2 separate regions of the Homo sapiens genome follow, and region 1 is linked to region 2. Evidence: fine-mapped expression QTL. A gene starts in region 2. The other region holds a variant in brackets. All regions are shown on one strand. Distances are from middle to middle.

The links.
Region 1: its variant is fine-mapped to the expression of AFDN in whole blood (TOPMed, PIP above 0.99).

The regions. Positions count from the first base shown.
Region 1 is chr6:167,704,278-167,709,649 of GRCh38, forward strand. No RefSeq gene overlaps it. Among named protein-coding and RNA genes, the nearest start is that of LINC02487, 11 kb to the left of the region's middle. RefSeq lists enhancers at 3,345-4,066, 4,067-4,787. The variant G/A (reference allele first, on the strand shown) is at 2,009.
Region 2 is chr6:167,824,207-167,829,520 of GRCh38, forward strand. AFDN (afadin, adherens junction formation factor) reads left to right here and starts at 2,705. Exons shown (of 34, transcript NM_001386888.1): 1 at 2,705-3,031. The coding sequence starts at 2,927. It overlaps AFDN-DT (AFDN divergent transcript), which reads right to left and starts at 2,590. Exons shown (of 2, transcript NR_027906.1): 1 at 1,197-2,590; 2 at 1-600. RefSeq lists silencers at 1,674-1,743, 2,658-2,857 and enhancers at 2,328-2,397, 2,428-2,507.

The sequences.
Region 1 (5,372 bases), 120 kb before region 2:
CTCCTCAAAGCTCTGGAGAGACTCCTCCCAGTTCTGGAGAGACACCTCCCAGTTCCGGAGCAACTCCTCCCAGTTCTGGAGAGACTCCTCCCAGTTCCGGAGAGACTCCTCCCAGTTCCGGAGAGACTCCTCCCAGTTCCGGAGAGACTCCTCCCAGCTCCGGAGAGACTCCTCCCAGTTCCGGAGAGACTCCTCCCAGTTCTGGAGAGACTCCTCCTCATTCCAGAGAGACTCCTCCCAGCTCCGGAGAGACTCCTCCCAGCTCCAGAGAGACTCCTCCCAGCTCCGGAGAGACACCTCCCAGTTCCAGAGAGACTCCTCCCAGCTCCAGGAACGTGTCTGAACGTGGTTGGCTTGTTTTCCTCTGGCCACTGCCAGGACCCTGGGCGAAGGTTTGGCCAGCAGTGGAAGACATAGCACAGTGGCCCCAGCAGACTCCACGGTCAGCACAGAGCTCCTGCCCGGGGTCAGCCTGAGGCCCACCCTCCTCTGGCAGCTGTCGCTGGACCTGCTGCTTCAGACCACTGTACTCCAAGCTCCTGGTTTTACTGCCAAATGTGCAGCACCAAGACAGCTTGAAATACTCTTTCACTGGTCTTGATGAGAATTCACCCTTCTTGAAGTGAATTCCTTCTCTTTCTTTTCACGTGGTAGGTCCAATGTCTCCTCCTCAGAGTGGCCTTCTCTGAATCCTCTTTATTTCTGTCCCTCACAGGGAAAGCCCTGTTTATTTTGTGTCTCCACCACCCATACAGAGAAGAAAGGTCTTGAGAGGGGTGTTTGGTAGGGCCTCTCTGACCACAGCATCCTCAGAGCCCCTGAACTAGAGCTGGCCCAGGAAGGACCAAACCAGAAATCTACTTTTTCTTCTTTGTTATTTCTTTATTTAATATTAATTGCAAACAAATTTGTAATTACAAGCATGCTAAAAAATCTTTTATTAAGAGGCACATACACACTTTGCAGCTTCCAGGTGTCTGAGTTTATTGGTTACATTTTTCAAAAGGCCATCACACGACCCTGGAGAGAAGCCCCCAGCTGCCGAGCAGCAGTAGGAGGAGGGCGAGGCCACAGGACGGCACGCGGGAGGCGCCAGCCGCAGAGAACACGCACAAGCCTGACGGCTGGAGCAGCACCACGTGCATTTCCTTAAAGAACGGAGGTGCAGATCCGGGCAGGGCGAGCTCAGGGTTGGTTAGTTCAGGAGCTCTGCGCGTCTCAGGCAGCCAGGACCCTGGGTCGAGAGAGGCTGCGATGGTCCCACCGTCACATTCAGATCTGACCATGGCCAGTGGAAGAGGAAGAGATGTGTCCTCTTGGGCTGTTTTCTCAGGGACTAGCAAACTTTGCTCGGGCCCTGTCCACCCACGTTCCCACAAATATCAATGCCAGAATTGGGCCACACAAGCCTCCCGTGCTGGTGCCTGCGGCTGGCGGAGACAGACACGCACCACAGCAGGTGAGCACCATGCGACTGGAGTTAAAATGAAAACACCTTTCTTCTAGAAGCATGAAGGAAACATTTCAAATGATGACGCTTTGTGCTGCTGATGGTGAGTGAAACAGAACTCTCCATCCATGGGATGTGGGCACACGACCCAGCCCCAGCTTCCTAGAAGGCAGCGGGATGGGTACAGGACGGGGACGCTGCCACCTGCCTTTGGCCCAGGACTCCCATCTCTAAGAATACATCTTAAGGAAAGAAGTAAAGTGCATATGAGCAAAAATATTATGTACTGATATGTTCATTGCATTAATATTTTAAAAATTCAAATATCCAAAATTGGAATGCTTATACAAATTTTGAACTATACAAATAACCCAATATTTACATGCTATTACACTGATATTTAAGAAGAGTGTTCATTAAAATGAAAAACAAACTTTTACCATTAAATGAAAAAAATTACATACCGTATAATGTCTACACTTGAAAAAGGAGTATATAGAAAAATAAAGGCACCCCTGCCAAGTGTTAATAATAGTTTTCTCTGCAGGGTAGGCTTCC[G/A]GGTGATTTTCTGTATTTACACATTTTTAGCCCTCTAAATATTCTATAGTGAGGGCGTCTGTAGTTGCTATTGTTTCCATTATCAGTTATCTATTGCCACAGTGGTAACCACAAGAAACAACCACAAACCTCTGTGCACGTAACCACCACCACTGGCGCCTGCTCACCGTCGAGGTGGTGTTGGGGCAGGGCTGCTCTCTGAGCTGGGGCGGAGGAGAATGAATGCATCTGCTCAGCCGGCTCGGCTGGGTGGCTTCACCTAGCTTTGCCGAGCCCCCTCCCACGCCAGCTGGGCCCCGCAGAGACTCTCAGGGCCCCAGGCAGATGCTCGTGACAGTACAGGGCTTCGTGGGAACTGCAAGAGCTCACGGCGTCTTAGGCCTCGGCTGGGCAAGGCCCCCTTCCTACCGGCCAAAGCAAGTCAGAGGCTGCGCGGCCTCCAAGGGTGGGAAAGGAGCCCCTGTTGATGAGAGGAGCTGCGGTTCGTTGCAGCGACGGGACAGCAGGATGAGGACCTACAGCCAGCTTTACTTCAGTCCACGATTGAGACCCGGCTGCTGTTCTCAACAGCTGTTCCCACCATAGCCTGAAAACCCAGATATTTGCTGCCTCAGTTTCCATGGCCAGTATGGTAGTCACGTGGCCAGCTCTGGCCAATGAGACCAAGGGTAAGTCCAGAGGGGTGAGATTCTGGGAATCACTCTTCCTTCATGATTTAAAAAAACAACAACAAAGGAAGAAAAGAGGGAGAGGAAGAAGCTCACAAGACACCCCCAGCCCCACCACAGAAGCCTCCCTGCACCCGGCCTTCCCATGTGGCCCCGTGAGGGAGGCCATAAGGCCCAGATGCAGGTGTGAACACACACCTGAAGAAGCCAGGAGAACAGCCCCGATGTGTCTCCTCCAGGGTTTCAGGGAAGAAATCAATGCCCACAGTTGAAGCCACGGTGAGCATGCCTCAGTGACTGGATTCCCGGTGCCTCTCCAGACATAGCACAGCCCGCATGTCCATCCAGGAAAGGCGTAACTAAAGAAGAAAGCATTTAAGCAAGAAACAGATAAGTCAAAAGTCTTACAAAAATGAGAAGGCTCTAAATGATTACAGCATAACACAGAAGCTGCTTGGCAGTTTAGAATTTCACTCCCAGACAAAACTATAGTCAACTGAAGGGTATGACCTGGCTGACATGTTGTCCTGACTATTTCATGCTCTAAGTTTGCAGAAAGTGACTGTACATCACCCAGACATCTTACACAGCCCCTGGTCTGTGGAGTTTCCCGTGAAGACACAGGTGGCCTGGCATCAGGGACACACCAAGAAAGTCGGCAGCAGGGAAGGGGGCTTCGTGTCTTTCTCTCACAGGAAAAAAGGAGCAAAACAACTGTCTGAAACTGAAATGAACACGGTGCCTTAAGGTCACTTTATTGTCAAGCAGAAAATGGTCTCAAGAATTGCAAAGGGAAAGGAAGGTAGGATTTGCTGAGCGGAGTATCACATCAAGAAACCCAGTCATCCGGGGAAAGTCGGCACTTCCCGAATTCCCGCGTAATCAGTCACTGAAGAGACGGCATGATGAGCGAACTCTGGTCTATCCGAGGCCTGGGAAGCTGGCTCAGAAGCAGCAGCTGGAGAAACACACGTATGACAGCTGTGGCATTTTGCTAAATATGTTGTCACGATGCCCCATGGCTACAAGGAAAGAGCTTAGCATGTGATGGGGAGGGTGGAAGACACCCCACAGTGCTCAGGGGGGAGGCTGAGCCTCTGCAGCCAGGTAGACCTCTTGACGGTGCAGGGCCAAGCCTCAGCTGCTTACGTCCAGACAAAGCAGGGGGAGGGTGCCTGTGTTGGCCTTGGCCAAATGAGCATGTTTTATCTGAAACAGAATCCATAGGGTGGAGTTGCTTGACACTGGCCTCCTTCCTGAATACCCTCCAGGCGAGAGGCTGCATCTGGGCTGGTCCAGGGCCGCTGGACACCCACAGTGAGCCCAGCGAGGCAGCAGGAGCGCCAGTAGGACTCAGCGTCGATCTCCCGGATTCAGAGATGACCAAGAATCGTGAAACATCTACGTATTCACCAAGGACGCAAACAAGGCTGCAGCCATCTCAAGGAAGCTCCTGGAAATCTTCCTGCAGCCTAGAAAAATGTTACCTGAAGCACTGCAGGAAGATCCTGGGGCCAAGACAGGATTCCCGCTCCACTGAGACCCCAGCCCTGCAGGCTCCCATCCACACCCGCCCTAGGCTGCCCTGGACCCATGGCGGGCCCAGGCACACCCCACAGCCGCAGGCACCCCACAGCACGGCGCCGCATCCAGGGAGTGCCTTCCTAGGCCAACATCCTTGGGTGACACCTGTTGAATTTCGTTTTGATGATTCTTTCCTTTCAGGGTAATAACTTCTACACCTTTTTCTTGGCGTGTTTCTGTAGCCCAGGTCCAGGAATAGATTAAGCACGAGAGCGTGTGGCACCTGCTCAGCAGCCTGTGTATAGCTTATGCTTTCTCTACTGTCCCACAGGAACCGTGTGCACCTCTGCAGGATGCAGACCCACAGGGGTGGGGACAGCAGGAAGAGCAAGAGAGGCACAGAAGGGAAGGCCAGTGGAGGCCCTCCAAGCCGTCCCAAGGCAGTCTCCATTGTCGCATTCAGGCTGGGAAGGGAGGGACAGTGGACAAGGAAGGGGTCCTGGGAATAGCAGCCAACAGGGGAGGAAGGAAAGGATGCAAAACTTCCAACAGAGCTGCTCAGTAGGGGAAAGACGTCTTTCCTCACCCATCCTAGGTTCACGGCTGAAGCTTCTATCACAACAGACAGATGGACAAAGGAAAGTGCACATTTTACTTCATCTAAGTTTTATGTGACACAAGAGCCTTCATAAGGAAATGCCAACCCGAAGAAACAGGCGAGCCTGAGTGTGTTTCACAGGGGGTTTGGTGAAAATGGGGCGGTGGAAGGAAAGAACAGAAGGAAGCAGCATGATCTACTGGCAGCAAAGCGGGGGGACCTGGCAGGCCTGTGTGGCCCTTCAGCTCCCGAGCTAAGGACACTCCACTCCACATGATGGGGTGGCCACTTCTCACAGGCGGGGCTCCTAGACCAGCTTCCCGGGAGGGCCAGAGAGTCCTGCCTGACTTTTATGACCCAAGTCAGGAGAGGAGGAAGGAAGGTGAGTGTGGCTTCCTGCTTCTGCACTTTTCTCAAATAGCTTCAGCTGAAAGTATCGGGGGGTGAACCTCATCACCCATCACACCTCGCAGCCTATGAACCAGCCTGGCATCACCCATCACACCCCACAGCCTGTGAACCAGCCTGGCATCACCCATCACACCCCACAGCCTGTGAACTAGCCTGGCATCAC
Region 2 (5,314 bases):
TCAGCCTGGAAATTTTCATGTCCTAAACATATACCAGTTATGGGAGTGTTCATGATTTAAGAATCATAGGTATTCTATGAATTTTTGGCTGCTCTTAAACATTTGTCAATAAACTAATGTTGGTTGGGACCTACAATAAAGTGTAGTTTAGATATTGATATACCACTCATACATAATACAAATGGGGACTTTTAATGACAGTCAGAAAAACGAGAATGATTCACATTAATTTCGAGCCTTCTATGTGTCCTGCATCACCCAGTAGGTATTTCACATATGCTATATGTTTTTTATTACAAAAATAACACTGCAGAGAGCCCATAACTGTTTTCCAGGAATCCTGAATTTTCTCTTTAGTGATGCTACACATACTTACTTTGGACATCAGCAATCTAACTGCCGGCTTTGCAAACTCATTCTTCAAGAGGCAAGTCATTCTTGGTAACAGCGTCCTCAGGAATGAAGCTCCTGCAGTTGAGGTTCAGTGAACGCTGCGTCAGGGATCTGCGCAGCACGTGTGGAACCCAATGAGAGTCCTTGCTGTGCAGGCACCGGGATGCTCACATAGTAAAAACTCGAGTCCATCGGGAAGCCCAGGAACTGAAAGGCATAAAGAAACCGAGTGCTAGAACACGAAGATGACATTTAGACACAGATGCTTTTCTGCAAGTCACCACACTTTAATTTTAAGAAAGGAGACTAGCGATCTATTGAATAATTCATTCCCTCATGGCACTGGTTCAACACCCCAGGCTCCTCTGCTGAGAAGCCTCCTTATGTAGCTGTACTGGACAAGTGCGGTAGAAAAGACAGAACCCAGTGGGGATGACAGAATTCTTTAATTGTCTGCAAAAGAGGAAATCCAGTTGGTGGAGAGAAAAATTATTTCCACATTGGAAAAAAAAGTAATGACAAAAATAAAAAGGCTTTGTCAAATATAGTTCACTCTTCTCATTACTTGCCTTAGTGTTTCAAAGATAAACGCTTTTTGTTACAACACATCACAGATAACGCAACTTCGCCTGACTGAACCCGGCGTGGGGAGACTGCAGAGATGGCGCTCTGCAGCCAAAACAAAGGGTGGGGGAGGGGAGGGGCAATTACAAAAAAGACACCTTATGAAAAAAAATCCCTACAATTCACAAAGCTTGCTACTGAAATTAATTTCAGGTTTCCACGTCCACGGGGACACGTACAGGATTTAAAATGACGATCACGTGGCATCTCTCAGGGCCAAATGGGGCGCATCAAAGCTTCCCCTCGACGTTTATTAACTCTGCAGTCCGTTCTCTACGTCTGCGAAGAATTGGCAGATAACGATGTGTCTGAGAGAAGAGGCGTTTTCTAAGGAGACACACAAAGGGAGTGGGACCCTCCAACCTCACTCTGTGAGAGGAACACCGCACAGCAGTGTGGGGGCTCGAACACCCCAAGAGCGGCAGAGCGCGGTTCAGAAAACATGACCCTTGAAATGCACACAAAGCCTAACAACGTGTCCTCCGCGGAAGAAAACAGCTTGAAAAGGTCGGCTTTGAAGTGACCCAGCGGAAAGGAATCACCCTGGAAGAAACACGCAGCAGCCCCGGGGCAATGCGCGGGCAGGAGGAGCAGCGAGCGCGGGGAGCGCAGGGCCCTTCGGAGAGGGCGCTCCACCGGCCCTGCGCTCCGTACCTGTGCCGCCACGCCCACCGGTCCCCTGCTGAGCCTAGCACCGCCCATTTAGACCCAGCACCACCCGTCCGGACCGAACCTAGCACCGCCCGTCCGGACCCAGCAGCGCCCATTTGGATACTGCACCGCCCGTCCAGACCCAGAACCGCCCGTCCGGACCCAGTACCACCCATCGGACCCAGCGCCGCCCATTTAGACCCAGCACCGCCAGTCCGAACCGAACCTAGCACCGCCCATGGGACCCATCGCCCGTTCGGACCCAGCACCGCCCGTCCAGATCCAGCACTGCACCCCCATTTGGATCCAGCACCGCCCGTCCAGACCCGGACCCGCCAGTCCGGACCGAACCCAGCACCGCCCATCGGATCCGGCGCCGCCCATTTAGACCTAGCACCACCCATCCGAACCGAACCTAGCACCGCCCATCGGACCCACCGCCCGTCTGGACCCAGCACCGCCCGTCTGGAACCAGCACCGCCCGTCCACAGATCCATCACCACCCATTTGGACCCAGCACCGCCCGTCCCCGCCCGTCCGGACCGAACGCAGCACCGCCCATCGGACCCAGCAGCGCCCATTTAGACCTAGCACCGCCCGTCCGAACCGAACATAGCACCGCCCATCGGACCCATCACCGCCCGTCCAGATCCAGCACCGCCCATTTGGATCCAGCACCGCCCGTCCGGACTCTGCACCGCGCGTCCGGACCCAACACAGCACCACCCATCGGACCCAGCACTGCCCATTTAGATCCAGCAGCGCGCGTCCGAACCGAACCTAGCACCGCTGGTCGGGAAGGAACCCGGTACCGCCGGTTGGGACCCACCACCGCCAGTCCAGACGGAACCCTAGCACCGCGCGGGGCCCGCCCTCCGACACCTCCCTCCCTGGCGGCCGCGGCAGCAGCACCTAGTGGAGCGGCCCGGAGGTGCGGCGGCGCCGCGCGGGGCGGCGGCGCGCACGGCGGGCGGCGGCGCGCACGGCGGCGGGCGGGGCGCGGGCGGGTGCGGGCGGCGGGCGGCGGGCGCCGGGCGCACACCGGCCGGCGGGGCTGAGGCGGCGCGGCGCGGCGCGGACTGAGCCCCAGGCGGAGGCCAAGTCGGAGGACGCGGCGCGGCCGCGGAGGCGGAGGCAGCCGCGGAGGCGGAGGCGGCCGGCGGGGGGTGGCGAGGGGCGCCGGGCCCCCGCGGACCTGTCGTCCTCGGCCCGTCCTCCGGCCCCGGCCCCGCGCGGCTGAGGAGGCGCGGCCAGGACCATGTCGGCGGGCGGCCGTGACGAGGAGCGGCGGAAGCTGGCCGACATCATCCACCACTGGAACGCCAACCGGCTGGACCTGTTCGAGATCAGCCAGCCGACCGAGGTGAGCACCGCCGGGCGCGGGGCCTGCGCGACCCCCGCCCGCTGCGCCGCGCCCCGCCCCTCCCCCCCGCCGCCGCCCGCCAGCCGCGGACCCGCCCTCCTTTCCCCCTCCCCCCTCCGCCCCTTCTCTCCCCTCCCCCTCCCCCAGGCCCACCGCGGGCCCCGGCGTCCCCCGCAGCCCCCGTCCCCCTGCCGCGGTGTATCCCGGGGTCGCGCGGGCCGAGCGGGGGCTGGCGGGGCGCGGCAGTCACCTGTTCCCCTCTCCGGCCGCTCACCTGGTGGCTCACCTGGGCCGCCGCCCCCACCCCCGCGAGCGCGGCGCGGCCCCGGCCTCATCCCCGGCGGCGCGGGGGGCGCGGCGGCGCGCGGGGCCGGCGCCCTCCACCTGCAGCCCGGTTGTGGCTCGCGGCGCCCCTTCGCCGTGGCCGGGATGGAGCCTGTGACGCGCGCTGTGCTTCGGGTTCATAAACTTGCAGGCTGCCAGCTGGGAGGGGAAAGTCAGTATCACAAAGTTCGGGAGGTGCGGGCTGCCTGATGGCACAGGCCCGGAGTCGGACGCCTCCGAGGAAAGGCGCGCCTTCTCCACCTTCGGGGCCGCGAGGAAGGGCCCTCTGCGGCGGCCTCTGCCCGGAGGGAGGCGCCGGCCCCAGGCTGGCTCCCTGAGAGGAGGAGGAAATCACGCTCGCTCCTGGCCTGGTAACAATGGGGGTTGTTTATAGCAAAGCTGCTGAAAGCGTTCCGAGCAGCTTTTAAAAAAATGTTTGAGTCCAAGTCCACTAGGAAGGGCTCCGTGGAGAGGGGAGGGAGGTGAAGGGTCGGGGAGCAACCCTGTAAATCGCTCCGCAAGGGTCGGTTCCGCGCTCTGTTCATTCGGTGGCTGCACAGACTTTACCAGCATAAAAAAATTTCACTCAATATTTGTGCCCGTTTAGGAAATCATTTTAATAGCGTCTATTTTTGATTTGTTGTAATAGGTAATTTATAGTTAATACTTGCTATAAAATACTAGCTCCTAGGCAACAAAACATGTTTGGCAGATTTGAACATTCTTACGAAATGTAATCCTTTTATCATTAAATTCCACTTTATGTTTTTGAGAGAATTTGACTATTGCTTCTCTGATTTCTTGAGTTTTTGCCAGTCATGGGAAGGACTCTATTTCTTCTGTTTTCATCTGTACCTGTGACTGCACTTGACGTGGGTAGCTAGCCATTTGTCTTAATACTGAGTTGAATACTGACACACGCCATTAGGCTCAGGTTGTCAATTTGAGCATAGATGTTATGTTAAGTTACTCCTGATTCATTCATCTTCTGTAATGATTTTATGAGTTAGGTTCTAGTAAGGGAGTTAGTACTATGTACTTAAGTGTTCGTTCATAGACTAGTGTATCTTTAGAAAGGTGACATGATAATTTAGTTTCAGGATTATGTTTTCTTTTAGAATAATGAATTCATTTTTCTTTTTATCACAAGGTAAAAAAAGTTGACCATAAAACATTTTCTTGGTGTGTAGCTTTTTTTTTTTGTTTGAATGGATTTTTTTTTTTTTTGAGAGATTTCTCAAGTCTGGTGGAAAGGAATCTTTTTTCGGTTTAATAAAGAGAATTCAGCTTTTTGGGATTTTGAATTGAGTTAGCATTAAAAAAATCTCAAATCAGAAACATTATAGTTCATTGATTTAATTAAATTCTATTTTAAGCACTCAATTGAAACTTTTTATTTCTTAGTGATATGACTAGTTTTTAAAATTGGCCTGTCATTTGGAAAGCTGTTTTTTCAGTTATACTGTAGGTGAAAGTTTGCTTTGTACATACACTGAAGCAAAACAAGAATTGAAGGACTTGGAAAAAAAGATGATATATTTCATTTCCTAATTTTTCTCCCTACTTATATCTGAACATTTCCATTTTTAGAAATTATTCTTCAGAATTGTATTAGAAGCCTTTCATAATGAAATGAATGGTTTTTAAGAATGTCCATATATTGGTTTTTTAGCTTTTTTACTATATAGTGGCTGGCTCACATTTCTATTTTGTTTTCTCGAGAACTTTCCTGTACTATTAAATTTATTCTGGTCCTAGTTAAGCTTTGCATTTAACATATTGTATCTTTTATTATGATGTAGGTAAACTTAATATGAGTAATTCTCTCAGCCAGTATTTCAAGGCCAACAGTTTCAATTTGCTTTGTCTAAGCTCGTGTGAATTTTTTTTTTTAACCATCTAATGATTATTTTTACTCTATTTGGCCATCACAAGTCCAATTTTTTAGTTTTCTGCAAG